Regions from separate parts of the Homo sapiens genome. Here regions 2, 3, 4, 5 and 6 are each linked to region 1. The links come from fine-mapping of genetic effects on gene expression. A gene starts in region 1. Each other region holds a variant in brackets. All regions are shown on one strand. Distances are from middle to middle.

Region 1 (5,143 bases):
ATTTTTAGTAGAGATGGGGTTTCACCATATTGGCCAGGATGGTCTTGATCTGTTGACCTTGTGATCCACCCACCGTGAGCCACCGTGCCCTGCCTTGAAAAAAGTTTATTCTTTGTAAAGACAGGGTCTTGCTGTGTTGCCCAGGCTGGTCTTGAACTCCTGGTCTCAAGCGATTATCCCATCTCAGCCTCCCAAAGTGCCAGGATTATAGACATGAACCACCGTGCCTAGCCTCTATTATAATTTTAAACACTCATTTTTTTCTTTTTATCTTTCTCTGATGATTTTATTATCTGAAATTCTTAGGGATTTAATTCTTGCTCATGGTAGATTGTTTTCTCAAGTGTTGAAAAATTTGTGATTTTGAATTCATCGTCAAGAGAGCTTTATTTGCATGAGTGCAAAGGATGAAAATTCTAGACTGGGCGTGGTGGCTCACGCCTGTAATCCCAGCACTTTGGGAGACCGAGGTGGGCAGATCACGAGGTCAGGAGTTTGAGACCAGCCTGGCTAACATAGTGGAACCCCATCTCTACTAAAAATACAAAAAATTAGCTGGGTGTAGTGGTGTGTGCATGTAATCCCAGCTACTTGGGAGGCTGAGGCAGGAGAATTGCTTGAAGCCGGGAGGCAGAGGTTGCAGTGAGCCATGATTGCATCACTGCACTCCAGCCCAGCGGACAGTGCGAGACTCCATCTCAAAAAAAAAAAAAGAAAGAAAAGAATATTCTAAAAAAAGACTTAATTCCCCCCGCCACCCCACCCCAAAACAAGTGGAGACAGGCAAACTTCCTTATCTTCTAGGTTGGGGGATGGATTTTTTTCCTGGTCCACTGTTTGGAAGATGTTTCCCTTCAAACTTTCAGCTTTTGCAGGGATCTCCGTTCTAGTTCTCCCTCTGGGTCAGGCCCGTAGCTGCACTGCCCATTCTTGTAATGTGCGGCCTCCAGTCTGGAGGGTTCCCAGACTGGCCTACGCTAGGCCACCCATGGGCCTACCCTGCCTCATGCTCATTTAGGCTCCTCTTCCTCATTGACCCTTTAAGATATTCCTTACTTTCCTCCCAGATCAACTGTGGATTTAAAGAACATTTGTTGTATTTAGCACAGCATTTAAAGATATTTTGTAATGAAAGGGTTTTCAGATTAGTTATTTAGTTTTTTTAAATAAGAGCTGGAAGTGGAAATCCCGATGGCCTTTTCTTTTCTTTTCTTTTTTTTCTTGAGACGGAGTCTTGCTCTGTCACCCAGGCTGGAGTGCAGTGGCTCGATCTCAGCTCACTGCAAGCTCCGCCTCCCGGGTTCACGCCATTCTCCTGCCTCAGCCTCCCGAGTAGCTGGGACTACAGGCGCCCGCCACCACGCCTGGCTAATTTTTTGTGTTTTTAGTAGAGACGGGGTTTCACTATGTTAGCCAGGATGGTCTTGATCCCTTGACCTCGTGATCCGCCCACCTCGGCCTCCCAAAGTGCTGGGATTACAGGCGTGAACCACCGTGCCCGGCCCCCCAATGGCCTTTTCTACTGTCTCATGCTGATTCTGCCTCTGGTGCCATTTTTCTTCCTTGGGAGTGTGCATCTTCCTCTCCTGGGGCGGTAAAGGGAGTAGCAGAGTGCGAGGTATGTGGGAAGGGAGGAGGTTGGAACCTAGTGGTTTCTCAAAGTCTTAGGGCAGGAGGTATCATGGAGAAGCAGTGAGGAGGTCTTCCATACCCAGACATGCCTCAGGGTGCTTGTCTCAGTGCCTGGAATCCCAGCACGAGAGTCATCTTCCCCCCACCGCTGCCCATTGCATCAGTTACTTATTTTAGTAGGAATTAGTTTAGCAGATGGTGTTGAGAATTAGGCTTTTGGGAATGGGAGGCTGGGAAGAAGAATTGTGTGTGTGTGTGTGTGTGTGTGTGTGTGTGTGTGTGTGTAAGATCAGGGTACCAGAAGTGGGTGGAAATGTCCTTGAGAATTAGAATTATTAGAATGTAGCAACAGTAGAAGTATTAGACTCAAACCATCACTCCCCACCTTCACCATTTTACAAAGGCTTAGGCTTGTGGCCAAGACCTTCATCTTTAGCCGATCCATTCAACCCTGGCCAGGATCCAAATGGACTGTTTTTGTCAGGGCCAGGACCGGATCCTTCATACCTGGGGTGCATAGGAAGTGTTAGTACTCCCCTTCCTCCAAACACAGCAGCAAAATTGGCTCAGGTTGAGGTGTTTTTCTCAACTTCCCTGGAGTCCAGCCCTGGAAGCTGGATCAGGAAGCTGTGTTGTTCTACTGTGATTCCCCCTGGCCTGTATCAGCTTGCCCTGAAACAACCAGCATTCCTGGTTATCCCACACAGGTGGGGCACTCTAGGAAGACCAGGGATCAAGTGTGGGGGTGTAGGGATAGGGGGTGTTTGGGGAGGGCAAGGCAGTTAATTAAGGCAGCTGCCAGGAGGTCTCCCTCCAAACTCTACAAAGCTTTATCAGCTTGGAGGTACTTCTAATACCATTTCCTTTCATTGTTTCCTTTTGGTAATTAAAAGGAGGCCAATCCCCTGTTGTGGCAGCTCACAGCTATTGTGGTGGGAAAGGGAGGGTGGTTGGTGGATGTCACAGCTTGGGCTTTATCTCCCCCAGCAGTGGGGACTCCACAGCCCCTGGGCTACATAACAGCAAGACAGTCCGGAGCTGTAGCAGACCTGATTGAGCCTTTGCAGCAGCTGAGAGCATGGCCTAGGGTGGGCGGCACCATTGTCCAGCAGCTGAGTTTCCCAGGGACCTTGGAGATAGCCGCAGCCCTCATTTGCAGGGGAAGGTATGGCCTTTGGAAGGAGAGCTGGCTCAGTTGTGGGAGGAAGATGCAGGACTGACTGATCCCTGCTCCTGGGGAGCTGGAGTTCTCTGTCGCTGGACTAGAAGGGCTTTGTTTGGAGGGGCAATTCAATTCAGCCAGGGATGATCCTAATACTCCCTCCTCCACTTGCCTCTGAGGGTCCTGGGGCTGCTTTTCTTCATGCAGTGGGTTTTACTGTTTGATAGTACTTCACTCAAATGAGTTGGAATGAAGTTTGCCCTCACCTCTGAGAACCTGGGAGCAGCTGAATGTACCTGCGTGTTAGGACTGGGAGGGGACACCTGCTTGGAGACCGAGACCTGGCAGTATCTGACATCTCAGTGTTCCTTCCACAGATGTATCACAGATTGGCTTGATTTCACCTTTGGCTGGATGGGACCTTAGGTAGGAAGGGAGTCACCCCCAGTGAATCTCAGGCAGCAGATTCTGCACTTCATTTAACAACTTTTCCCGAGGAGAGGGGCTACAGCAGGGGCTCTAAGTGACTTGGGGTACGCTCTGCCAGCCAGGATGAATTGTCCCTCTCTTGGGGGTCACACAGTGGGGAAGTCTGCCTGCATCCAGGGCCGCTGGACTCCTGTCCATTTTTTCAGATGAACTCAGCAAACATTTGCTGGGCATCTCCTGGGTGCTAAGCATCTTGCCAGGTGCTGGGGTTGGAGGCAAGGGAGACAGCCTTTGCTCTTGTGAAGGCACTTGTGGTACAGAGTCAGGGGCCAACAAGCAAACCGTCAAGTTGGTGGTTCCTGAGCATTCTCTATGTCTGGGCTGCTGTGGTGGGCACACAAGTGTAAGACGGTTCCTACTCGCCAGTTTGGATGCAGAGGCAGGAAGGAATGAGGTGTGTGTTAGCTCCCAGCTGCTTCAGGAGGCAGGGATGTGAGGCCCAGCGGGCCTGGAGGGAAGGCAGCGTTTTCCTCCTGTCTTGGGCCTGGGACTGCTGTCTGTGGAAAGGTGCCCACAGGTCCCAGCTCACAGCGATTGTTACCCTTGGGCCTGGCACTGGCCAGGGGTTTTTTCGGGGGCCAGAAGTCCATGTTCAAAGGGGAAAAGGGGGTCACGAGGATCAATCTTTTCTCCTGCTTTAAAGAAATGTTTTTGCTACTGCATGCCCTGATAGTCGCCACACCAGCAGCCGCCTACCTGGGCAGCAATGACCAGCTCACGTCTCTTGCTTCTTTGCAGATGATTCCTGCCAGATTTGCCGGGGTGCTGCTTGCTCTGGCCCTCATTTTGCCAGGTAGGTACAAAAGGGCCTCCATTTCTCATTCCTGCCCCAGGGCCATCTGGAGTGACACCTTTCCGGGAATCAGCAGGTGTGTCTGGAGCTCACCTGTGTGCCCAGCCCTAACTTAGGCTGTTGGTTGCCTCCTGTGAAGGTTCTGCGGAGTTCCCACCCTTGACTTGTATTCCAGAGACCAGGTGCCTGCAAATGCCATCTCCTGTTGGGGAATTAAGAAGCATAAAGGTGGCACAGAACTGTCCTATATTATGGGGGCACAGGATGAGGAGGAAGGAATCCAAGACTTGGATGGATTATTAGTTTTCGATAAGATTGTGGAGGTCACCTTGTTGAACCTCCCATGGTACAATGAAGAGACTGAGGGTCAGAGAGGAGAAATGACTGCTCCAAAGTCTCCTAGAGCCAAAATCAGAGGTCAGTCTTCCTGGGTTCCAGGCCAACACCCTTTCCACTGCACTGCATCATACTGCTGCCCTTCCCTTGCTAAGATTCTGGGTCTGCAAATGGCGGGAGGGGACTTTTGACCTTGGGCGCTTTCCACTTAGATCTCTCAGGTCAGCAGCATCCAGCTACTGCCCACAGGTGAGTCTGGGAAAAAAAATACACATTTGTCACACTCTCTGCATCTTCCTACTAGGTGGGTCTTTTGCCGGGGAACCCAGAACACTTAGAGATTTACTGCTGTATTTCCCCACCTGCCGACACACACACACCCATAGTCAGTGAAGGAGTTAGCCTGTGACGCCGGAGGAGTTCACACTTCAGAGAGTCTATGTGTCAGGCACACAGTCTGATCTGTTTAAAATTTAACATGCCCAAGACATGCTAGTAGATTTATGTACAAAGATGCTCACTGCAATCTATCTATAATATTAAAACATGGAAAAATGCTAGAAACCTAACAATAGAGGGCTATACTATAGACATTCAGATGCAAAATATAATGCAGCCACTAAAAACCGCATATTGGAAGTATATACACTAGCACGACAAATTGTTTACAATCTATTGAGAAATAAACAGAGGTTATAGGTAGTTTGCACAAGTTGGTCACCAATTTATAA
Region 2 (5,000 bases), 41 kb after region 1:
CCTTTCTTTACAGCAGACTGGCTCACCTGAGTGCAGGATGGGAGAAGGGCAGGGAGCCAATGGTTGTGGTGAAACAGTGGTGACCTTGGCCACTGTTCCCTTGGGGGTCTAGCCTCATGGCAGAGGTCAGTGGCTACCATGGGGTTTTGCAGATTTCCCTTGAACTTGGCCTTTAAAAATTTTTTTTTAAAATTTTACTTTAAGTTCTGGGATACATGTGCTGAACGTGCAGGTTTGTTACATAGGCATACATGTGCCATGGTAGTTTGCTGCACCTATCAACCCATCATTTAGGTTTTAAGCCCCACATGCATTAGGTGTTTGTCCTAATGCTCGCTCTCTCCTTGCCCCCGCCCCCCGCGCCCCCCCTCCCCGCCCACAGGCCGTGGTGTGTGATGTTCCCCTCCCTGTGTCCATGTGTTCTCATTGGAACTTGGCTTTTTATGTTGCTCATTTGACAAGCCCTTGAGGAGAGTTGGATAAGGACCTAGCACCCAAGCATTCAATTCAAAGGCCTCCCTAACATAATGTTCCCAAAATCCTTTAACGAACTATTTCTCAGGTGGGTTCCTTTCCCTTTTCCTTTTCCCTGGTGAGCAACAGAATGGACAAGAATCTGATGGTGCCCATAAGTGCATATTCACTGAGATGTTTCATATGGCTTGCGTGATACAACGTAGACTAAGGGACAAGACACGTAAGAGAAATTAAACCATGAAAGACTGTCTGGGGTTAGTAAATGACAAATCGCCAAGTGAATGGTAAGTGATAGCGCAGCTTAGGGGAATTAGCTCCTGTCACAGAGCTGATGCTTTTTTCTTGCTGGGAGCAGGATGGGTGAGTGATTCAGAAAGGGCTGCTTTCCATCCCCAGAGCTTGGTAGGCCCTAGACTGGGAACCAGGGAATGGTGCCCCGTCCTTGTCCATCCAGCCAGCATGCCCTAATCCCTAGAAGCTGCTCAGATGCCTCCAGGAGCCCCAAGGAGAAGGTGAGGAGGGTCCCTTAGAGAGGTCCATGGCCAAGTCTCCTACTTCTCATGAGCACTGGACCCCAGCTATCTTAGAGAGAGGAATGTCAAGCTCTGCAGAAACCATCCATTTGGTGGAAATCTATCAACAGGTTTCACCAGGTCCTTGTGAGTCAGAATCTTGGAATGCGGGTGGGAATCTTGGGCCGGCCAGAAGTTATAAATAGAATCAGCTACCCTCCCCCACCCATCATTACAGCTGACCAATGAGAAAGTATTCCCTGCTGCAGGGTGAATTCTTGAACCCACTACTTTGGAGCAGCTCAGACTCCAGGCGCCTCCATACCTACCAGGGGCTGCTGCAGGGCACCCATCCCAGAGCTAGAAAGATCAGGGCTTGTGGAACAATATTGCACTCTATGTATTAGACTTTCCTTTCTTTGTTCACTCAGTCCTAGGAATGTCCCCCTCCCTTCTCCTTTGTCAGCTGCTTGGGAGCAAACACAATAGCTAAGCTTCAGATCTCTGGCTCTGCTTTCTCTCCTCCTGCTGCCTGCCACTGAGATGTGCTTGCTTTCCCTCCTCCTCCCCTGCACCCGCCTGATGTCTCCAGGGAAGATGCCTGGTCTTCTTTAATGAACTGGAAATGTGATTAAGATGGGCCACAATTGGGCCTGCACACCAACCCAGGCATGGTGAGGTCATGGCTGGATGGGCTGGGGCAGCTGCTCTCCCGCAGCTCCTGGCACGGCCGACAGGAGTTGAAAGAAGACAGGAGTAGCTGATGCAGGGCCTTGGAGCCAGGGAGATGCTGGAAGTGTGCAAATTAGCTGGCCCTTGTTTTGCATCCCTGCCAGAATGGTTTAGCAGAGAACTGAGGAGCCAGTACCGATTGCAGGCAAATGAGAATAGTTATAAGCATTTGATTTCCTGGTGTCATCTCATTTGATTTCATTTTGCAGAAACCATCTAGGGTAGGTCCAAGTACTGCTGTCTGTGTCAGTTAGGAGTAGGTTCAGCTGTGAGTGACAGGACTTATACAATCTAAGTTTATTTATCTCTCATGTAAAGAAGTTTGGGGTAGGATGTCCAGGGCCATGCAAGATCTCATGGTGTTGGGATCCAGGGTCCCTCTGTCTTATTTCTCTGTTGTCCCCAGTGGGGGCTTCTACCTTGTGCACCAAAACGCCGGCTCAAGCTTCAGGCATCACAACTACATTCCCGCAGTAGAAAGAGAAGGGACTAAGGAAGAAGCAGTCCCTTATTTTGAGGACACTTGGTGGAGGTTGCACAAGACCCCTCTGCTTATAGCCTACTGGGTATTGCTTAGTCATATGGCTGCCCCCAGCTGCAAGGGAGGCTGAGAAATGGAATCTTATTCCTAGCAGCTCTGTGCCCCGTGGGGGTGGGAAATTGAAAACTGAGGATTCTGTGACTAAGAAGGGGAGAATAGCTCCTGGACAACTTTCAACCTCTTCCACTTTTCCCCTCTTTCACAGGTAGGGAAATGAGGATGCAGAGAGGCAAGATAATTTTCCTTTTCTTTTTTGTTTTTTGCGACGGAGTCTCGCTCTCTTGCCCAGGCTGGAGTGCCGTGGTGCAATCTTGGCTCACTGCAACCTCTGCCTCCCAGGCTCAAGTGATCCTCCCACCTCAGCCTCTCTAGTAGCTGAGACTACAGGCACGTGCCACCACGCCTGGCTAATTTTGGATATTTTTGTAGAGATAAGGTTTTGCCATATTGCTGGTCTCAAACTCCTGGACTCA[A/T]GTGATCTGCCCACTTTGGCCTCCAAAAGTGCTGGGATCAGGCCGGTTGCGGTGGCTCACGCCTGTAATCCCAGTACTTTGGGAGGCCGAGGTGGGTGGATCATGAGGTCAGAAGTTTGAGACTACCCTTCCAACATGGCAAAACCCCATCTCTACTAAAAATACAAGAGTGCTGGGATTACAGGTGTGAGCCACTGCACTTGGCCAAGATCATTTTCTTAAAGTCACACGCTTTGAAAGTGATGGGTTGCGAGAGGCAGAGGTTGCATTGAGCTGAGATCACGCCATTGCACTCCAGCCTGGGCAACAAGAGCGAGACTTCATCTAAAAAAAGAAAGTGATGGGTTGAGATTCTAGCCCAACCATGCTTCTAAAACCTGAGCTACAGCCACTGTATGACCCTGTCTTCTAATCTGATTGCTAGGAAACAGGAGTGGGAGGGCAGGATGGAAAACTGTAATTTGTGGTTTGGAATGGACTCAGGCACTCAGGGTTTGCACCCCATCACTAGTGTTAAAAGAAAAACCTGAGACAAATTAAATTTAACAGGGTTTACTTGAGCAAAGAATGATGCATGAACCAGGCAGCCCCCGAATCAGAACAGGCTCAGAGAGACTCTGGCCTGCCTCATGGTCAAAGAAGATTTATGGACAGAAAAAGACAAGTGACTTACAGAAACTGGAAGTGAGGTAGAGAAACAGTTGGATTGGCTACAGCGCAACATTTGCCTTATTAGAACGTAGTTTGAACAGTGGGCTGCCCCAAGAGGAGGTTACAGTGTGTTTACATCTCCAGTTAGGTTACAGTTCATTATGTAGGGAGAAACCTTTAGGCCTAACTTAAAATATGTAAGGAGGCAGCTTTCGGCTAAACTTAAAATTTAACGATTGTATAGCAGTTCTCCAACTGTTTAATCGCAGGGCCCCTGTATACTCTTAAAAAATAATGAAGGACTTTAAAGAGATTTTGTTTATGTGGGTCATAACTCTTGATACTTACCATATTAGATATTAAAACAAATTTAAAACATTTTTTGATTCATTTTAAAATAACAAGCTCATCATATTTAATGTAAAGAACATATTTTTAGGCCAGGCGCGGTGGCTCACGCCTGCAATCCCAGCACTTTGGGAGGCCTAGGCGGGCAGATCATGAGGTCAGGAGTTCGAGACCAGCCTGACCAACATGGTGGAACCCAGTCTCTACTAAAAATACAAAAATTAGCCGGGCGTGGTGGTGTGCACCTGTAATATCAGCTACTCAGGAGGCTGAGGCAAGAGAATTGCTTGAACCCTAGAGGCAGAGGTTGCAGTGAGCCGAGATTGTGCCACTGCACTCCAGCCTGGGCGACAGAGCGAGACTGCGTTTCAAAAAAAAAAACACCATATTTTTAAATAAAAAGAACGATAAATTCCAAGCCAAAAAATAATTTAGGGGAAAAATGACACTGTTTTACAGTTTTGCAAATCTCCTTGCTGTCTGGCTTCAGATACATCATCTGGACTCTCATATCTGCGTCTGCATTTAAATCTGTTGGGATATCTCATGTCTCATAGCCTCGGAAAACTGCACTGCACTCTGGTGAAAGAGTGAGAGAAAAAATTGCAAATAGCATCTTAGTATTATTATAAAAACAGTTTTGACCTCGTGCACTGCTGAAAGGATCTTGGGAGTCCTAGGCGATCCCTGGACCTCACCTTAAGAACCACTGACTTAGGCCAGGTGCCGTGGCTCACTCCTGTAATCCCAGAGCTTTGGGAGGCAAAGGCGGGTGGATCACGAGGTCAGGAGATCGAGGCCATCCTGGCCAACATGGTGAAACTCCGTCTGTACTAAAAATACAAAAATTAGCTGGGCATGGTTGCGCGTACCTGTAATCCCAGCTACTTGGGAGGCTGAGGCAGGAGAATCCCTTGAACCAGGAAGTCGGAGGTTGCAGTGAGCTGAGATCGTGCCACTATACTCCAGCCTGGTGACAGAGCGAGACTCTGTCTCAAAACAAAACAAAACAAAACAAAAAACACCACTGGCCTAGTAAATTCTTTACCCACTCCATGCTTCAGTTTCTAAATCTGAAAGGCTGTCTGTATCAGCCTTTGTCTGAGGAGAGCTGTGTTCTTTGGAGGTGTCTTCAGGCCTCTGAAGGGCCCATTTGTGGCATGGGTGATGAGATGGTCTCTGAAAGTACTTTAGGTGGGCTAGGAGAGAGGTCAGCTGTGGAGAAGGAGGTGAGGTTTGCCTCAGCCTTTCCTGAACGCAGGAGGA
Region 3 (5,000 bases), 59 kb after region 1:
TCCATTAGGTGAGAGGTTCCGTTTTGTTTTTTTTCATGAGGCAGGATCTTTATTCACATAGAAATGGATCTGCTTTAACTTCTGGATTTTTTTTTTTTTTTTTTTTTGAGACAGAGTTTCACTCAGTCGCCCAGGCTGGGGTGCAGTGGCGTGATCTCAGCTCACTGCAACCTCTGCCTCCTGGGTTCAAGCAATTCTCCTGCCTCAGCCTCCCGAGTAGCTGGGATTACAGGCACCTGCCACCACACCCGGCTAATTTTTTGTATTTTTAGTAGAGACGGGGTTTCACCATGTTGGCCAGGCTGGTCTCGAACTCCTGACCTTGGGTGCTCCGCCTGTCTCAGCCTCCCAAAGTGCTGGGATTATAGGCATGAGCCATGACGGCCCGGCCTGGATGCTCTTTTTTTTTTAAATGCAGTTTTAGGAATCACCTGCCTTTCATTCATTCCCCAAACTTCCAGTGCCCATCTCCATCTAGTGGTGGGCCCGCTGTTCGTCAGGAGCTGCCTGTTGCTGACTGATGGGGAATATCCTAGTGTCCCATCCTGGGTGGAGGATGGGTGAGCGTGTTCGCATGGCCCATAGTTCTGGCTGACGTTCTAGCTCCCGTGGCTAACGGCTACCTGGCAGCTCACCCACCCATTTTCCTGTGTTTGTGGCTCTGTTGCTCAGTTGTACCGAGGAGATAAGCTCATATAATATTTAGACTTCTGATTTGCGAGAAACTTGGGAACACAAGTCAGTGAAGGTCAGAGAAGGAAATCAGATGAGACGATTAGATGCTGGCCCTGAAAGTTTTCCTTTCGAATATTTGCACATTTCTCGTTGACCCTTCTTTTCCTGGGTATTGTTAAAGAAGACAGAAGTCCATTTTCTTGCTTAGATAAGAGTGCTCTGAGAAAACACAGAAAGGCAGGGGGAAGAATTCCCACCCATTTTTACTGCCCTGGGGTCAAGACATTTGACACAAATGACCATATTACTGTGTTTGTAGAATGATGATAATTTCTGAAAAATGGTCAGTTCAAAAAGGCTTTCCTGAGACCTCACTGGACTTGAAATTACAGCACATCCAGAATGGGCTGGGACGATCCTGGCCCCTATCTTGTGGCCTGCTCTGTCCTCCACGAACAGTCACTCCTCACTCCCGCTCTTCTAGAGGGGGCAGCGGAGAAGGTGGGCCATGCTGATGGGAGTGATCTGGGGCCTTTCCACTTTCTCCTAATTTCCTCTGGGCTGGATGTGCCCTCCTGACCCATGCTGTCCTGGAAGGGATCCACTGTCCTGGGGACCAGGCAGAGGGATGTGTACATCCCTGAGGCACCTCATCCTTAATCCTGCCTTCATACACATCTCAAAGGCAGGCCCACACCTGGGTCCAGTACTGCACAGTCTAGCCTGGCCCCTGGCTGGGCCTGTCAGGGCACATGCGAGCATGAAGTGCCAGACAGTGAGGGCCTGTGGAGCTTGTCCTTGACAAGCTAGAATCTCTCTGTGCCTTTTGGGGACCCCTTGGCTGTGTGACAGGGCTAGCATTAGCCCCTGGAGCTGGGCCCACATAGGATGGTCTGTAGGACCCTCTTACATTTGTCTTTCCAACGTTGGTCTAGCATCTGTTCCCCAAAGGGGGAACTTCAGGTGGAGGCTGAGGTAGCGCTGTAGACAGCCAAGCTTCCGCTGTTTGGAGGGTCTCAGGGGAAGCCCTGTGCACTCTATGTGTCCTCATCTTTGCTTTGATCCTTAGAGAAAGGAACTCACACATGCACCGTAGAGTGACTGGGTGGGAAAAGTCTTCCTCCTTCACCAAATGGCAATGGTGTCTCTCTCTATATATATTTCTTTTTCTGTAGAGTAGATAGCAAAGATGAGAGCAGGTGGAGGAAATATATAGGGCAGGTTGGGAAGGGATCCAGATGCCCTTTTCAGCTTTGATGGGTCCATGTTTGGCCCTGAAGATGGGATTGCCTCAAGCCAGGCAGGTTGATGGAGAATCACTGGAGACATTGGCAGAGGCCTCCCCCTGCCAGGACACCTTCCAGGATGTGTGATCTCAGTTTGGAGGTGCATTGGGCCACAAGTATGGGGCCTAGGCTGGGGCGTGGGGGAGATGGTGTGGGAATTAGGGTGGGGACAAGCTGAGGGCTTTGGGTTGCAGGGTGATGAAGGGGAGTCCTAGTCCCCACCCACAGATGTGTCAGCCTGGGCTGGGAAGCTGGCGCTGCCGAGGTCAGCACTGCCTGGGTGGTGGTGAGATCATGGGCAGATGGCCTCCTGGTTCCCCATTGGCCCTGGCTGGAGTCACAGCGTGGGCTTGCCCCTCTGAGGACGCAGAAAGCAATGGCCTTAGAGTTGCCCCTCTGCTGGTGAGGAGGATGGAGTCCCCATTTTCACTGCTGAGCTCCAAGACTGTCCTGCCTCACCCTCCCACCTCATCCTGCCTCTGGGCTGCCTACTCTGCCCCCTGGCCTCCAGGGACTCTCCAGGGGTGACACTGTTTCCCAGAGCCTCTCCACACTCAGGTTCAGAGAACCCTGTGCTATTGGGCAGCCTCCCCCTGGCCAGGCATTCCGCTGGCACCAGTCTGAGGCTGGTGTGGCCCTGATGCCAGCAGGTAGCGTGGGACATGGCAGTGAGCTGTGAGGGAGGAGGGGAGGCTGCAGGGAGCCTGGAAGCAGGAGCGTGGGTTCCTGCGTGGTTCCACCACTGACTGAGTGTGGCTCTGTCACCTTCCTTAGTTGCCCCATCTGTAAAATGAGGCCTTGACCTGAATGACCCAGCTCTGACATCTTGCAGTTTTAGGAGCAGGAACCGAATTTTCTCGTAGAACTTGTTTTTAGACTGGTTTGGGCAAAGGACGTCCATGCAGTTTTGGGGAAGGGCACCCTGCTTGCATATGCATTCCACCTTGGCCACCCCAGGGGAAGTGCCCTCACCTCCCATTCTTCTCCCTTCCTCTGTGTCTCTCCAGGGGAGTGCCTTGTCACAGGTCAATC[A/C]CACTTCAAGAGCTTTGACAACAGATACTTCACCTTCAGTGGGATCTGCCAGTACCTGCTGGCCCGGGATTGCCAGGACCACTCCTTCTCCATTGTCATTGAGACTGTCCAGGTGAGCTTTGCCAGCCCGGCTGCTGGTCGGGTGGTAGCCCAAGGTGCTGCATAGCTGCTAGGCTGAATGGGCAGTCCCTGGAAGGCGTGGGGCATTGCTTTCTGTGCATGAGGGAGGTCTCTTCCAGACTTCAGTTAGCTCCTCATTCATCCAGAAACCCAGCCCATCCCCTCTCTCCCTAGATGCTGGCGGAAGGCATCCTGCCCTGACAATAATGCCTCCTCAGGGCTGGCTCAGCTCCCCACCCAGTGGACGCATCCTGCTTGGGTCTAGCCTGTTGCCCCCATAACTAACCCTCTGATGTTTGGAGCTGGGGATGGCTGGGGTGGGGGCAAAGAGGGCTGGTCTTCTCTTCTGAACTCTGTGGTACATGTGTGGCTTCCTTTCTGTAGGGATGGAAGCAAAGATGAGGACGAAGAGAATGCACAGGGCTTTCCTTGAGGATCAAAGTCTTTGATTCTCTTTGGAACAGTAGGTCCAAGGAACACGATGAAGCAGAGGCCCATGGTTCTTTATAAGAGACTGGGCCAGGCTGGGAGAAGGCGTGTGCAAGGATGCACTTAGCAAGCCTTCTTGCTGCACAACTCTAGGGGGCCCCATTCACATGGAGTATTCTGGGAGAATGGAGTTGTAGGTTATGAGAAGGCCAGAGGCTCTCGGGTTGAGGCCTTTCTCTGATTAAGAGGGTCCTGGGCTGGGGAGCTGGATAGGCAGGGGGTGCAGCAAAGTCACCCTGTGTTCCCTCTTGGCAGTGTGCTGATGACCGCGACGCTGTGTGCACCCGCTCCGTCACCGTCCGGCTGCCTGGCCTGCACAACAGCCTTGTGAAACTGAAGCATGGGGCAGGAGTTGCCATGGATGGCCAGGACGTCCAGCTCCCCCTCCTGAAAGGTATGCTTCGTCCTGCTCCATCAGGCCTGGGGCTGGCACAGCCCATCCCTTAGCACCCTCCTTCTCAACCCTGGCCACTGTCCTTAAGGACCTGCATGCCTCTTCCATGGGAATGTGATGGAGAGTTATTTTTGGAGGGCAGGGTGGGGTGCTTGGCATGCATCCCTCCAAGAAAGGAAGGCTTCCTGGAGGAGGAAGACTAGAGAAGGAAGCCTATAGATGAAGAGGTTGCTCTAGACCTGGGACAGAGTGTAGATGGGAAAAGGGAACCGAGAGGATTTTTATTTGGCTTGAACCAAAGGGGCGAGTTGAGTCTTGGGCAGGTGGTTCTGGTTTGCTCTGGGGTGGGACAGGGGCAGAGGCTGATGCTGAGAGATCGGGGGTGGCTGGTGATGTCACACCAGAGGATGCCACTTGGGGCGAGGCCAGGTGACCCTCTGGCCTGTCTAGAGGTAGCAAAAAACCTACCTGTCCAGTATCTTCACCTGGGTTGCACTGTGCCGGTCAAAGCAAACCTGCTTTTGCATGGTAAAGCTCCCAAACTTCACACTCAAAGTGGCTCTCAGACTCTTCCTTCTTCTCCACAACTGCTGGCCACTTTGTCGCCCATTATCCTAGCATTGCACACAGCGGATGAACTTGGGCTAGTGGGTACCCAGCACGTCCATGGGTGTTATGCTGTGTGTCTCCTTATAAGATATGTTTGTTCCCCCAGGGCAAGGGGTGTGCTCCTATCTGTCGCCACCTTCCCACAGAAGCAACAATTGCTGTATTCAGTGTCGTACACAGCATCGCTCAGACATGAGGTGGTGTGCAGTGGCAGAGTGTCCCAGGCACATTCAGATGTCGTGGTGTCAATGCTAAAGAGATCCCCCTCTGCTCCAGGGCACCTGCCTACAGCCCAGGATGCAGGAGCCTCTGCCTCCCTCCTGTGGCAGTAGGGGGAATGGCAGGTCATAGCGGGGGGTGCAGAGGCTTCTTCCTGGGGGACCCTATTTGCGCTC
Region 4 (5,143 bases), 69 kb before region 1:
TACCCACACCTTAAAAAAACTTTCTTCCTCTTTCCCCACCAGCCGCCTTTTAAATATTGAAGCCCTCAAAATCATCTTTGCAGAAGGCACAGATCTGCCTCCTGGGCGCCCATCTGTAACCTTGGCAAAATAAACTTTCTAAATTGATTGAGACCTGTCTCAGATACTTTTTGGTTCACAGCATTTTGGATCAGGAGGTGTCTTTCATTCCTCCTGACATTCTGTGTCACAATAAACCCCTGGGCCAAAGTGCATTTGTTACAGACAGTTAGTGCTACAGGCAACCAGGAAGGTGAGCGATGGAAAAATTATGTTTTGCCTTAACCGGAAGAGGAAAATATGGGTAAGCCCCTGAGTCAGAAATCACATGGAAGCAGCCAGGCCTTCCAGGCTTTGTGGTGCTGGAGTGGGAAAGCTTTTCCTCCCTTCCCTCAAGGCGTCCTGTCTCTGGGAAAGAAACCCCAGCTCAGGCTCAGGGTCCACTTTGGCTCTTGTGCCCCCCCTGGTGGTAAGATTTGAACACGCAGAGGCCAGGTGACCTAATGAGCCGTCACACCCATGCCCCAGGTCCCTCCAGCTGTGGGCAATGGCTTTGTAAGGCAACAGGTAGGACCCTCGCTCTCACAGGCCACCAAGGCCCTTCCAGCCACCACACCAGTGGCCATCTTGATTCACCTCCTTCACTTCTAGAAGCTTCTCTCCTGTTCCTCTTTCTAAGCTCAAATACACCACCTTATGAAGCCTTCCTGGAGCACTCCAGTCTTTTTCTCCGTGGATTACCTTGAGTCTCGCATGTGTGATTCTCTGGTCATCATCATCTTCCTTTATGTGTCCACTTCTTGGTAGTGAGCTCCTCGAGGGTGCACTTGCATTTGATTAATTTCTGTGCTCTCCCTAGCTCCCGGTCCCTTCCTGGCCCAGAGCAGGCCCTCTGCAAACATCTGCAGAATGACGGCTGGGCGTGGGGCTTTCTCAGGCCCCTGCCCTTCTCTCTCAGACCTCTCCTGGAGCACTCATCCCCTTTTGTGCCTTCCACCATTTTCTCTGTTTAACTCATCTCTCTGTAAATGCAAGTCCTGATATCCAAGAGCCTGCAGATTTTTTTTTTTTGAGACCAAGTCTCGCTCTGTTGCCCAGGCTGGAGTGCAGTGGCTCAATCTCGGCTCACTACAACCTCCATCCCTGGGCTCAAGAGACTCTCTTGCCTCAGCCTCCCAAGCAGATTGAATTACAGGTGTGCGCTGCCATGCCCGGCTAATAATTTTTTTTTTTTTAGACGGAGTCTCGCTTTGTCACCCAGGCTGGAGTGCAGTGGCACGATCTTGGCTCACTGCAACCTCTGCCTCCCGGGTTCAAGTGATTCTTCTGCCTCAGCCTCCCAAGTAGCTGGGACTACAGGCGCACACCACCATGCCCAGCTAATTTTTGTATTTTTAGTAGAGACGGGGTTTCACCATATTGGCCAGGCTGGTCTTGAACTCCTGAATTCGTTATCTACCCACCTCAGCCTCCCAAAGTGCTGGGATTACAGGCGTAAGCCACCGTGTTTTTTATATTTTTTATATTTTTTATATTTTTAGTAGAGATGGGGTTTCCTCCTGTTGGTCAGGCTGGTCTTGAACTCCTGGCCCCAGGTGATCCGCCCACCTCAGCCTCCCAAAGTGCTGGGATTACAGGCGTGCGCCACCGTGCCTGGCCCGTTTCCACTTCTAACGGCCCTCCAAATAGGCCCACGTTCCAATCCCCAAAACTGTGAATGTGTTACTTTCCATGGCATAGCCTGGACCATCCCAGTGGGCCCAGTGGAATCCAAAGGGTTCTTATAAGAGACAGGTGGAAGTGTCAAAGCCAGGGAAGGAGATGTGACGACAGAAGCAGAGGTCGCAGTGATGCACAGCTGTGTGTTGGGGAACAAGGACAGCCTCTAGAAGCTGGAGAAGGCGAAGAAACGAATTCTCCCCTGCAGCTGCCAGAGGGATCCAACACAGCCCTGCCCACCCATTTTAGATTTCAGACCTCTAGAATTGTGAAATAGTAAATATGTGTTACTTTAAGCCACTAAATTTGTGGTTGTTACCGAAGCAATAGGAAATATAGTAATCTCAATGTAAACATCAAGATCAGAATTCATAATCTCCAAGGGCTTTCTAGGCTCGCAGCTGACTTTCTCCTCAGCCCTCCCTGTCTCTAATCAGTCAGCACCAACACCTCCCATCACCTGGGGCTCCTCCTTCCCCCAGCCTCACAGCTGCTTAGTGAATGTGATTCCTGTTTCTTAGCTGTTCTTACGTCATTGCTGGGAGGCACCAGGGCTAAGGCGGGTTGTAGTGATTGAGTGGCAGAGCACAGATCAGACCTCAGAGCTTCTGGTTTCAGTCCAGGGTTGGATCCTGATCTTTTGTTCCCCCTGATGCCCTGCCATCCGCAAGGGGGCTGCATCCTGGAAGCTCATCTGCAGCCCAAACGGCTGTTCTACCCTTGCCCTGCCTCGCTGCTGTTCACCTGCCCAGGATGGACACAACATTGGACCCAGAGAGTCTTGCTGCGTGCGTCCTTGGGGGTGGGCTGCCCTCCTCTCACCCATCACTTCTTTTCCTTGCATTAAGCACACACACACTCAACCTGGAAACTGCCTATGTCCAGTGTGGATTTTATGAAGGTTTCACGGATAGGTGGATGAGGGGTTCCCTCTCATATGCCAGAGAGAACCATTCTAAGAATCCCTCTGGATAGCTCTTCTCAAACGTCCAATCTGTGGCAGCCACCCCTATCATCTGCCCCCCAGCCCAGCCTCAGCCAGCCCCCTGCCCTGTGGATGTCCTCTGCATATGTCTGTGTGGAGCAATTTAGCTCTAAACTTGGCATTTTCCGTTTGTGTCCCCACCTCCCCTC[A/G]CCCTGCTCAGCAAAACAAATCATGGCTCTCAGGGTCTGTCCTCCTTAGTATATGGGGGTTGGGGGCAGGCGGGGAGCAATTCTAAACAAGCAATATTTAATATCATCCTTTCATCAGACTCCTGAAGCTCAGCTTTACTCTTTCCTGCTCAAAGATCTCCCAACTCCCCTTACCCCTGTTCTACTTCCAAACAATGCTCCCATAGCATTTACCTTCTCACAGAGTGGAATGTTTCCTTGGTATGTGCATTGCTATTTACCTGTCTCCTCCAGCTAGAATGCAAAATCCGCATGGCTGTTCTGTTCTCTATGTATCCCAAGGGCTTTGAACAGTGCCTGACATACAGTAGGTGCACAATATTTATTGAATGTATGGAAAGCCGATGTCTCAATTGTAAGATCATCATACAGGCCCTCTGCTCTCTCGCCTTAACCTCTGTTTGCAAATCTGTTCACTCTTTTGGAATACCACATGCATCCCCAGCTCTATGCCTGGGTCCCCACCTCTTCTTTCCGAAGCCCAAGCTCTTGGCACTTCCTCCTTTCTGCCCTTCAAGCAGCCTGCACCATCTCTGAGGCCAGCCCAGCCCCTGCCTTCCCCAGCACCCTCAGTCATCTTAGTCTGCTCTGATCCTCTTTCTCAGGACACTCCTGTAGCAACTTCTTTCTGAATCATCCACTAGACTCTTACAAGATTTGTCCTGGGTGATAATTTCAGGTTTCATGCATCTGTTTAAAAGAGTTGGCTGGGCGGCCGGGCGCGGTGGCTCACGCCTATCATCTCAGCACTGTGGGAGGCTGAGGCGGGCGGATCACGAGGTCAGGAGATCGAGATCATCCTGGCTAACACAGTGAAACCCTGTCTCTACTAAAAATACAAAAAATTAGCCAGGCGTGGTGGCGGGCGCCTGTAGTCCCAGCTACTAGGGAGGCTGAGGCAGGAGAATGGCGTGAACCCGGGAGGCAGAGCTTGCAGTGAGCTGAGATCACACCGCTGCACTCCAGCCTGGGCGACAGAGCGAGACTCCGTCTCAGAAAAAAAAAAAAAAAAAAGATTAGCTGAGCGTGGTGGCAGGTGCCTGTAATCCCAGCTACTCAGGAGGCTGAGGCAGGAGAATCGCCTGAACCCAGGAAGCGGAGGTTGCAGTGAGCTGAGACTGCGCCACTGCACTCCAGCCTGGTGAGAGTGAGACTCCGTCTAAAAAAAAAAAGATTAGCTGGGCATGATGGCGGGTGTGGGGAAAAGAGAGATCAGATTGTTACTGTGTCTATGTAGAAAGAAGTAGACATAGGAGACTCCATTTTGTTCTGTACTAAGAAAAATTCTTCTGCCTTGAGATGCTGTTAATCTCAATGTCAAACTCAGGGTTAAATGGATTAAGGGCGGTGCAAGATGTGCTTTGTTAAACAGATGCTTGAAGGCAGCATGCTCCTTAAGAGTCATCACCACTCCCTAATCTCAAGTACCCAGGGACACAAACACTGCGGAAGGCCACAGGGACCTCTGCCTAGGAAAGCCAGGTGTTGTCCAAGGTTTCTCCCCATGTGACAGTCTGAAATATGGCCTCGTGGGAAGGGAAAGACCTGACTGTCCCCCAGCCCGACACCCGTAAAGGGTCTGTGCTGAGGAGGATTAGTAAAAGAGGAAGGAACACCTTTCTGCAGTTGAGACAAGAGGAAGGTGGGCAATGGAATGTCTCGGTGTAAAACCCGATTGTATATTCCATCTACTGAGATAGGGGAAAACCGCCTTAGGGCTGGAGGTGGGACATGCGGGCAGCAATACTGCTCTGTAAGGCATTGAGATGTTTATGTGTATGCATATCTAAAGCACAGCACTTAATTCTTTACCTTGTTCATGATGCAGAGACCTTTGTTCACGTGTTTATCTGCTGACCTTCTCTCCACTATTATCCTATGACCCTGACACATCCCCCTCTCCGAGAAACACCCAAGAATGATCAATAAATACTAAGGGAACTCAGAGGCTGGCGGGATCCTCCGTATGCTGAACGCTGGTCCCCTTGAGAGGTGACAGCGTGCTGGCAGTCCTCACAGCCCTCGCTCACTCTGGGGGCCTCCTCTGCCTGGGCTCCCACTTTGGCGGCATTTGAGGAGCCCTTCAGCCCGCCGCTGCACTATGGGAGCCCCTTTCTGGGCTGGCCAAGGCCGGAGCCGGCTCCTTCAGCTTGCAGGGAGGTGTGGAGGGAGAGGCGCGAGCGGGAACCGGGGCTGTGAGCGGCGCTTGCGG
Region 5 (5,000 bases), 69 kb after region 1:
AAAGTCCCTTTATTGGGCGCCCGCCACAGGCCAACCCCCGGGAAAGAAAAAAAAAAAAAAAGTCTACCGAGGCGGGAGGATCGCTTGAGGGCAGGAGTTCGAGACCAGTCTGGGCAACGTAGGGAGCCCCCATTTCTATTAAAATAATAATAATAATAATAATAATAATAATAATAATAATAATAATAAATTTGCCGGGCGTGGTGGGGCGCGCCTGTAATCCCAACTACTTGGGAGCTACGTGGGACGGTTGCATGAACCCAGGAAGGCAAGGCCGCAGTGAGCCAAGATCGCATTTCTGCACTCCAGCCCGGGCGACAGAGCAAGACCGTGTCTCTCCAAAAAAAAAAAAAAAAAATTCCATAGTCCCCGTCCTTCGACCTTCCCAGTCTACTGCAGCAGCAGCTTACAAACTCAGCGTTAGATGATTGTAAGATAAATGGACTTGGGGGTGGGGGTGGCATTTGCAGATTTCTCTGCGTGACCTTGCAGCCCTCTATTAGCAGCACTGGGCTATTTCCAGGGGAGTGTTGACCGGGAGGGCGTGGCCCCCACTCCTCCCCACCACATCCCAGGCTCGCTCCTCTCGCCCCACAGCCAGGTTCTCCGAGGAGGCGTGCGCGGTCCTGACGTCCCCCACATTCGAGGCCTGCCATCGTGCCGTCAGCCCGCTGCCCTACCTGCGGAACTGCCGCTACGACGTGTGCTCCTGCTCGGACGGCCGCGAGTGCCTGTGCGGCGCCCTGGCCAGCTATGCCGCGGCCTGCGCGGGGAGAGGCGTGCGCGTCGCGTGGCGCGAGCCAGGCCGCTGTGGTGCGTGCCCTCCCTGCCCGCAGCCCTCCGGGCCGCCCCCCAAATCCGTCCACGTGTGCTTTTCGAAGCCCTTTCTCTGCGTTGTTTCCTGTGGAAAGAGGGCGTAGGGCATTGTGACAAACACGGGTGGGGAGGACGGTTCATTTGCACCCACTTTTCCCTTCCACCTCCCAGCAGGACAGGCGGTGGGGACCGGCTGATGATTCGGGCCTGTTCCAGGAAGACAGGTTGGCTCCTCCTACCTGGAGGCCTAGAACGTGGGGGTCCCTGCAAAGCTTGGGTTTCCCGTGGCCGCTGCCACCTAGTGTTCGTTCAGCACAGAAGGTCAGGCTGTGGAGCGAATGGGTCCCAGATCCCACTGGGTCTCCGCCTCCCTTAAGAGTCCGATGAAGGCAAGGGAAATTCACATACAAACCCTTTGCTTGTAACTCCAGGCAAACCACCGATGGACAAAACCTCTGGCGTTGTATAAAGTTACCTAAAGGTGAATTACATCACTGTCCCCAGTTGGCTTTAGATTCTCACTCTGCACTGTTGGATTCCTGGCACCAGAGGTGGTATCTATTGTGCTCACTTTTTTGTTTTTGTTATTGCTCTGGGGACATTTGCTGCATGCCCAGTGTGGTCGGGCAACAGTGATGATGTGGAACTCCAAACTTACTGTTAGAGTCACAGATGGAAATGGCCGCCCTACTAGATACCTATCCTACTAAGTGAAAGGATGAGTAGATTCAGGGCAGGGAAAACCAAGGAAGGCTTTCTGGAGGACGTGTACTTGGCTAGGGTTTTAAAAAGCTGCTTTCTTGGCAGAGAAGACTTGTTTCCAATGGTAGAATCATAGTAGGCATAGAAGTGACGAGTATATTCTGTTAAGAATAAGGCATAGTGGATATTCTGTTTTTTAGGGTAAAGTAGATGTGTTTAGAAATTAAAATGTAGGTGTAGTCCCAGCTACTTGGGAGGTTGAGGCAAGAGGATTGCTTGAGTCTAGGAATTTAAGGCTGCAGTGAGTTATGATCGCACCACTGCACTCTGACCTGGCCAACAGAGAAAGACCCTGTGTGTGTGTGTGTGTGTGTGTGTGTGTGTGTGTGTATACATATATATATATATAAAGTAGATGGTCCTGTTGGAAGAGGAGTTATGAGAAACAGTGAAAGGAATTAGCATCTATATTTCAGGAGCAGTGTAGGCATGGGGACCCTAGAAGTGCTACTATTTTGGGTCCAATGAGCCAACTCATGTTTTGAGTTGTAGAAATGTCATATGAAAGAGGAGCAGAGACAACAGTAAGGACGAAAGGGACGAGCACATAATGCAGCCGTTGTGCCCTCCCCATTCCTCCAGCTCTGGGATGTCTTGGGGAGCCACAGGCTAGGGGCTGGGACAACTGGGTCTGGGTCCTTACTGGCAACTTTCCCGTGAGGTACCAGTTATGGGACCTTGAACCCTTCACGTAACCCCTTTGCACTTCAGTTTCTTCCTTAGCATTTGCTATTTAGAAATTGGGGAAAGTAATGAGGAGTGAATGAGATGCTGCTTGTGAATATTCTTTGCTTGTCCACCAGTGTTAGAAATGATGCATTATCAGTATGTGGCAGCATCCGCAGGATTTCTTAATTTAGGACATTCTCCTGGAATGCTAAGGGCCCACTGAAATATTCTTTAATCTGTCATGAACAGCCATTCTTAACCTCCACTGAACAGAACAGGGGAAATGGGCTGATGCTTCAGTAGTGGGGATAAGATTCAGTTAAAGAATGTCTTGACTCCTGAGGCATTACGATAGGGTAGAAAGGGTGGTAGGAAGGAGCTTTCCCTGGAGACTGTTAAGGACAAGAGGGGTCTGTCTCTGTGGGTTTATGTGACAAGAGACTGGGCTGA[C/T]CAGATGGCCTTGGGCTGTCCCTTTGTACCCAAGGCAGTTGGGTAAGTCTCCTGGGTTCTTGCCCCAATCTTTTCTTGACTTGGAGAAGAGCTCAGGCTCAGCTGTCCCCTCTACCCACTTCCACTTTCTCTTCCAGAGAAATGAACAGAGCTCCCTAAACCAGTGAATCTATTCGTAAGAAGAGGTCACATCAATTGGAGACACTCAGGGAGCACAGACTTACCATGTAGCTACTTTGTGGGATGGTGTGAGGAGATTGATGAGAAGCACACACATTTTTTTTCCTCTTGCAAATTGGTTGTGCTCCCTTTGGGAAGACAGGACCACAGGCTTTCTGAAGGCAAGGACCAGGGCTGGCCATCTCTGCCTCCCTGGGCCTAGCATAGCCCCTGGCATGCAGTGGATACACAAGAAGTGTCTGCTAAACTGAGATGTGCATTGTTTCTTTGGGGAAGAAGGCTAAAGGAGAAATTTAATAAGGCTCCAAGCCAGCCCTAGAGATAGCCTATCAGAACAAAGAAAGTTCTCAAGTCTAGCTGCTTTTTAATGGGTAAAATGTGCCCTTGTCATTGTAGGCTCAGGTGGTTGAAAGACATCTCCATCTTTATTGTCTAACACATCCTGTCTTAACCTACACTCCCTCAGTATTCATCCAATAATCCAACCTTTCCATTCTTGCAGAGAAAAATCAATGTCTAATAGGATTAAAGAGGCCCTCCCTTCCCAGCTACCTTCAAACACCAAGTTCAGGGTGGTTGTAGGAGCGGGAGGCTGCAGGGTCTCTCCAGAGGCTCCCCACTCCATTGTTCAGGCTCACGGCCAAGGCTTACTTTTATAACATCTGTGAAATGCCCTGCCAGTAGGTTTCTGCTGGAGCAATGGATTTGAACAGAGAGGGGAAGGATTGTGATGGTCTCAGAAGAAGCATGCCCAGGGTGAGGTTCTCATTTCTTGGGCAGCAGCTGGTCTGCACAGGGAAGGCATTTTGAAAGGGCAGAATGCTCCCCACACCTTCCCTGTCCTCTACCCTGCCCATAAGGAATTTTGTCACCAGAATGCCAGAGCTTCTGAGGCCTAGGCCTTTCTCTGGAACACTCCTTCCTTCTTGGGACCGCTGAGCTGGGGCTGTTTCCTTAGCAATAAGAATAATAATTATTATCAGTGAACATTATTAGCAGTGAACATTCTCCACATGCCAGACATTCTTCTAAATGTGTTAGCTCATTCAACCTTCACAAAGACTGGGTGGATACTGTTATTCCATCCAGTGAGGATACTGCCCAAGATCACACAGCCAGCTAGTGGTGGACCTGGGCGTGAACCCAGGTATTTGGGATACAGAGCCCGTTCCCTTAGCTGCGTTGCCACTTTGCTACACTTCCTTCTGGCTTGTGTCTCTTGCAGTATTTTTCTGTGGGAGGCTAGGGAGGGTGAGGGCTGTGGGCAGATGGGTGCAGCCCATTTCGCTGTGGTAGGCATGAGTGTCCCTCCTCTTTGGGACCAGCATGTCCTCAAAGGGACTGTTTTCTTTCTAGAGAGTAAGGGTTATGAGCATGAGCTTTAGGGCTGCAGAGAGCTGAGTTCAAATCCTTCCTCTGCTTCTTCCTGTGAGGTATACCCCTAACAAGTCACTCAGCCTAAGTTTCTTGAAAGGGGGTGATGAGAGCTAACTCGGCATGAGGCATAGAGCCCACGTAAGAGCAAGGCATTCAGTAGGTGCTCCATAAATGGTACTCATTGTTGTCACGGGGTATGCCCTTGCCCGTCATTCCCAGTACTTTTTAATATTCACAGCTTCAAAACCTGCCAGGATTTCTACTACATCCTAGGCTTTGAGAATTCAGAGATGACTAATGCACATTCCCTGTGGTTGAGGAAAGGAGAAAATGTGTGCCCCCATAATTATAATACATATCTGCATGCTGAAAAATACACATTTGCTCATAGTGGGAAAGGAAGTTGATGACCATACAGATATAATTGGGGGTCACTTGGGGAAAACTGGGTAAAGGGTACATGGGATCTTTCTGCATTACTTCTTGTAATTGCAAGCAAGTCTACAATTATCTCAATAAAAATTTTAATTAAATAATTGGGGGTCACAGCTACAAGGGGTGGCAAGTCCTAGAACCACAGTCCTTGCTGTCCAACATTCCCGCTGAGGCCTTACTTCTCCTCTCTCTTCTAGAGCTGAACTGCCCGAAAGGCCAGGTGTACCTGCAGTGCGGGACCCCCTGCAACCTGACCTGCCGCTCTCTCTCTTACCCGGATGAGGAATGCAATGAGGCCTGCCTGGAGGGCT
Region 6 (5,143 bases), 43 kb before region 1:
TGTTAATGAACTAATATTATTAACTAAAGTGCACACTTTATTCAGCTTTCTTTTTTTTTTAACCTATTGCCCCCATTCTGTCCCAGGATCCCACCAGGATTCTATATTACATTTAGTCATCATGTCTCTGTAGGCTCCTCTTGGCTGTGACAGTTTCACAGACTTCCCTTGTTTTTGGTGATCTGGACTATTTTGAGAGGTGCTGGTCAGGATTTTGCAGAATGTCCTTTAACTGGGATGTGTCTCATGTTTTCCTCTTGAGTAGACTGGCGTTTGGGTTTTGGAGAGGGAGACCACAGAGGTAAGTGTCATTCTCATCCCATGATATCAAGGGCACTATCAACGTGACTTATGGCTGTTGGTGTTCACCTTGGTCACCTGTTTCTTTAGTGTAAAGCTATTCTTTTCTTTGCTCCCTTTCCATGATGTTCTGAAGAATCATTTTTTGAGCACCAAAAGAAGAAACTGGTGGCGGGGCGCAGTGGCTCACACCTGTAATCCCAGCACTTTGGGAGGCCGAGGCGGGCGGATCACCTGAGATCAGGCATTCGAGACCAACCTGGCCAACATGGTGAAACCCCATCTCTACTAAAAATACAAAAATTAGCCGGGCATGGTGGTGCATGCCTGAAATCCCAGCTACTCAGGAGGTTGAGGAGGGAGAATTGCTTGAACCTGGGGGGCGGAGGTTGCAGTCAGCCGAGATTGCACCACTGCCCTCCAGCCTGGGTGACAGTGAGACTCCATCTCAAAAAAAAAAAAAAAAAAAAAAAGAAGAAGAAGAAGAAGAAACTGGCAACTCTGGCAACTCTCCTAAGAGGGAGGAAGAGAGGAGAAAGGACAGGGCAGGGCGGTGACAAGTGTCCTGGAACGGAAAAAGAAAAAAGAAGAAAAAAATTGCACCTGTGTAGGAGGAGATGCTGGTGGCCCTTGGAGTGCCCATGTGAGAGAAGAGCCAGTTCCAGGATTCCAGTGAGAGCAGCCAGCTCAGCGTGGCTCAGCAGCGGGGGACAGCCGTCTAGGAATCCCTGCGGAGCACCCCAGAGAAGGAGCTTCACCTCGGGACCTGGGTCTCATTTTCAGGGACTTCATCTCCCTGAAAAGCAATGCTGCATCAGACACAGAGACGCCCCGACAGAACGGAAAACAATATGCACTGTTCAACATGAAACTCCCATTCATCTCACTGCTGCATGACTTTGCCTAAGAGTTCAGGATAAAGTAATGTTTGCAAATACATCCTGAAATTGCTTTTGTGGGTTAGCATCATTAGATTGCATTATGCTTTGGGATTAAAAGCGTTAACTTTGCCATGTAGCTATTTCAAATAGATCACAAGCTCTTTTTTTTTTTTTTTTGATGATCACCACTATACTAACGAGGATCAAATAGACCACAAGTTCTGCAACCCTGTTTAGATGTTTCTTCATTTCATAAAGTATAGGTACCAAGAATCTCAGTACCTCCTCCTCTCCCCCCAGACTTTCTCTTGTTATTCTGGGATCAAAGGGGCCTCATGTCCCCTCTGAGGGACCTTACCCCTATCAAGCAGGCTGGCAAGCGGGAGAACGGAGGCCTGAGAAGCTGCAACACAGCTACACTGAACTCCCCAGCCAAGCCATGTGCTTGCATCTGCCCGTCTACTCCAGAGTGTGAGCCAAACATCTGAGACTGTGAGAATTCGGAGAGCTGACCCCAGACGTTGGTTCCAGTGTTGGGAGGAACCTGGGAAAATCAAGGGATGCTTTGGTCCTGTCATTGTGACTGACAAGCAATTAGAGGTGAATATCTGTGAATATTTGGGGGTTTAGAATGTACCTGTTGAAATGAAATGCCCCTGGGATATGAAATAACTTTAGCTGTTGGCATCTAAGACAACAGAGGCAGCTGGACGTGGTGACTCACGCCTGTAATCCCAGCACTTTGGGAGGCCGAGGCGGGTGGATCACCTGAGATCACGAGTTTGAGACCAGCCTGACCAACATGGTGAAACCCCATCTCTACTAAATACAAAAAATTAGCCGGGCGTAGTGGCGCATGCCTGTAATTCCAGCTACTTGGGAGGCTGAGGCAGGAGAATTGCTTGAATCCGGGAGGCGGAGGTTACAGTGAGCCAAGATTGCACCATTGCACTCCAGCCTGGGCAACAAGAGTGAAACTCCATCTCCCCCCCCACCCCGCAAAAAAAGACAACAGAGGCGTTCAATCAGTCGGCCGCGGTGAGCAATGTCCCGTGAGAATGGGGCCCAAGACAGAAGTCTAGGAAAGGGTGTATGTGGGCGAGGTAGACACAGATAGGGGCTGTGGACGGAAGGACTCTAGGACCTGCTTGCAGTCTGTCATGAGTCTTTGGACTATTTATAGCTGGTGACCTCAGATGAGTCACCCCCATGATTCAGTTTCCCCATTTCTCTGAGATATGGAGACAGCAGCTGGTCAGGAAGGGACCCTTTCCCTCCTCTCCGCCTCTC[C/T]ACCGCCACCACTGCCGTCACCGGCACCCATGTTCTGCCCACACAGTAGCCCAGGATGCCAAGGGCTAAAGGCTTGACATAGACGACACCTAATGTAATCTCACAGCCCTGGGACACAGCTCTTGTTATTGCCTCCACTTTGCAGAAGGGAAAAGTGAGCCTTATAGAGGCTGAATAACATGCCTGATGTCTACACTGGGGATGGGTGGATGTGGGCTGGTGTTCGGGCCACCCTGACTCACACTTGGTTGGCCAGGGCTTCCACTGCTAAATCCATCTGGGTCAGGGGCTGGCAACATTTTCTTCATCAGGTAAATATTCTAGGCTTTGTGGGGCATATGATCTCTCTTCCTCTCACCCCAGATTTTCTCCTGTTACTCAACACTTTAAAAATGTAAAAACCATTCTTAGCTAGTGAGCTGCACATAGGAGTCTGCTGGCTGGATTTGGCCTGAAGGCCAGAGTTTAGTCACCTCTGATAACAGGAAAGCAAAAAATGCAAATTGCTGTGGGCTGTCATATCTCCCCAGATTTCAGAGGCGTTCTAAAACTCACTCAAAGAATCCTGGGCCCTGGAGGGTGGCAGGGCTACCTGTGCGGCCCAGGTGGATGTTAGTTTTACTGAGGACCTACTGGGGTGTGGGCACCACGGTGTCTCTCCCATGGCCACTATTCCTACGGGCAGTTACTGCCCCTCACACTTGTCCCTCTGTGTCCTACCCTCTGTGGGGGCTCACTGGGGGCCCAGCTTCTCCACCCTGTCACCATCCTGGCCTCACTTTCCTTTCTCCTGGGACTTCGGTTCTTGGTCAAGTGAGGCTGGACAGGCCCAGCTGTGGCCCCTGGCTGAGCTGCAGAGGAAGCTGAGAGGACCTGCTATCAGCTCCTTTTGGCCAGGCTGCCTCAGTGGCCAGCGTGGGGTGGGAGATGCTGAGGCAGAAATGGGGGAGAAGAGGTGGGAGCTCTGCAGCCGGAGGGAGGAGTTCCGTGGCCTGGGCAGGAAGCTGGGAAACCTCTGTTTCTTTCTTTCTTTGTTTTGTTTTTTTTTTTGAGACGGAGTCTCGCTCTATTGCCCAGGCTGGAGTGCAGTGGCACGATCTCAGCTCACTTCAAGCTCCGCCTCCCGAGTTCATGCCATTCTCCTGCCTCAGCCTCCCAAGTAGCTGGGACTACAGGCACCCGCCACCACGCCTGGCCAATTTTTTGTATTTTTTAGTAGAGACAGGGTTTCACTGTGTTAGCTGGGATGGTCTTGATTTCCTGACCTCGTGATCCACCTGCCTCGGCCTCCCAAAGTGCTGGGATTACAGGCGTGAGCCACCACGCTCGGCCACCTCTCTGTTTCTAAGGCTCCTCAGAGTTAAGGAGGTTTGTGAAAGGAGTAAACACAGGAATTCTGCTTGTGTGTGGGGCCTGCCTGTGCGTGTGTATCACATACAACCCATGCCTGTGTTCCTGTGGAGAGGGAGCATGGAAGGGGCCCGTGTTCTAGGCAATGCACAAAATAGTTAAACCAGGTCTGAAACTGGGATCAAGTCCCAACACCACCACTGACCAACCATGGGAACCAGGTCCAGGTCTTTAACCTCTTGGACACTCACTTTCCTCATCTGTAAAATGGAAATAGCAATATCTCAGCAGATTGCTGTAAAGCTTACAAAGTAACACGATTTATCGAATGCTTCCTACTGGGCAGGCACTATTCTAGGGGCTTTCTATATTCAGTTGATCCTCATCACTCATACATTCTGTATTTAAAGATTTGTCTACTCTGGCCGGGTGTGGTGGCTCATGCCTGTAATCCCAGAACTTTGGGAGGCCGAGGTGGGTGGATCACGAGGTCAGGAGATCAAGACTACCCTGGCTAACATGGTGAAACCCCGTCTCTACTAAAAATACAAAAAAAATTAGCCGGGCGTGTTGGCGGGCGCCTGTAGTCCCAGCTACTCGGGAGGCTGAGGCAGGAGAATGGTGTGAACATGGGAGGTGGAGCTTGCAGTGAGCCGAGATAGCACCGCTGCACTCCAGCCTGGGCAACTGAGCAAGACTCCATCTCAAAAAAATAAAAATAAAAAAATAAAAATTTGTCTACTCCATACAATTTACTTGTATTGCCAAAATCAATACTCACAGTGCTTGCATGGCCATCCATGAACACAGAGCAGAGAAAAATTTGGCAGGATGTGCACATTCCCAGCAGAGGGTGAACAAGGTGACAGTCTGCCTTCTTGTTTCAGCTCATACCACAAGCAAGTGTCCTTTTCAAGGTCTACTTGGTACCATGTGTTTTGCATTTTTCTGCTGCGTGTTGGTGATTCCACTGTTTAAAATGGTCCCAGCATCATGCTGAAGTGCTGTCCAGAGTTCCTAAGTGAGAGAAAGCTGTGATGTGTCATGTGGAGAAAATATGTCTAGTAGTTAAGCTTCGTGCAGGCATGAGTTATAGTGCTGTTGGCTATGAGTTCAATGTGAATTATTCAGCAATATATATTGAATAAGGTGTCGTTAGACAGAAACACACATAAGAAAAAGTTATGCATTGATTTGTTGATGAAAATGTGACCAGAGGCTCACAGGAACCTCCCCTTGTATCTCCCCTAGGAGCACTGGTTTGGCATTCACTAATTCAGTGTTTGCAGTGACTCCATAAAACACAGCCACTATGAATAATG

What was found. PIP is the estimated chance that this variant, and not a neighbour inherited with it, causes the effect.
Region 2: its variant is fine-mapped to the expression of VWF in whole blood (TOPMed, PIP above 0.99).
Region 3: its variant is fine-mapped to the expression of VWF in whole blood (TOPMed, PIP 0.98).
Region 4: its variant is fine-mapped to the expression of VWF in whole blood (TOPMed, PIP above 0.99).
Region 5: its variant is fine-mapped to the expression of VWF in whole blood (TOPMed, PIP above 0.99).
Region 6: its variant is fine-mapped to the expression of VWF in whole blood (TOPMed, PIP above 0.99).

Annotation. Positions count from the first base shown.
Region 1 is chr12:6,122,075-6,127,217 of GRCh38, reverse strand. VWF (von Willebrand factor) reads left to right here and starts at 2,548. Exons shown (of 52, transcript NM_000552.5): 1 at 2,548-2,797; 2 at 4,022-4,076. The coding sequence starts at 4,022.
Region 2 is chr12:6,081,089-6,086,088 of GRCh38, reverse strand. The region is part of intron 6 of VWF (von Willebrand factor); the gene reads left to right. Among named protein-coding and RNA genes, the nearest start is that of VWF, 41 kb to the left of the region's middle. RefSeq lists enhancers at 1,756-2,500, 2,501-3,247. The variant A/T (reference allele first, on the strand shown) is at 2,736.
Region 3 is chr12:6,063,242-6,068,241 of GRCh38, reverse strand. VWF (von Willebrand factor) reads left to right here. Exons shown (of 52, transcript NM_000552.5): 11 at 2,969-3,105; 12 at 3,858-3,996. Among named protein-coding and RNA genes, the nearest start is that of SNORA120, 26 kb to the right of the region's middle. The variant A/C (reference allele first, on the strand shown) is at 2,994.
Region 4 is chr12:6,191,210-6,196,352 of GRCh38, reverse strand. No RefSeq gene overlaps it. Among named protein-coding and RNA genes, the nearest start is that of CD9, 6.6 kb to the left of the region's middle. RefSeq lists a silencer at 2,208-2,257 and an enhancer at 4,585-5,143. The variant A/G (reference allele first, on the strand shown) is at 2,893.
Region 5 is chr12:6,052,670-6,057,669 of GRCh38, reverse strand. It overlaps VWF (von Willebrand factor), which reads left to right. Exons shown (of 52, transcript NM_000552.5): 15 at 598-813; 16 at 4,887-5,000. Among named protein-coding and RNA genes, the nearest start is that of SNORA120, 15 kb to the right of the region's middle. The variant C/T (reference allele first, on the strand shown) is at 2,698.
Region 6 is chr12:6,165,224-6,170,366 of GRCh38, reverse strand. It overlaps LOC124902866 (a long non-coding RNA gene), which reads left to right and starts at 756. Exons shown (of 2, transcript XR_007063189.1): 1 at 756-2,219. It overlaps LOC105369623 (a long non-coding RNA gene), which reads left to right. Exons shown (of 3, transcript XR_931588.3): 3 at 437-533. RefSeq lists enhancers at 2,250-2,544, 2,277-2,556. The variant C/T (reference allele first, on the strand shown) is at 2,472.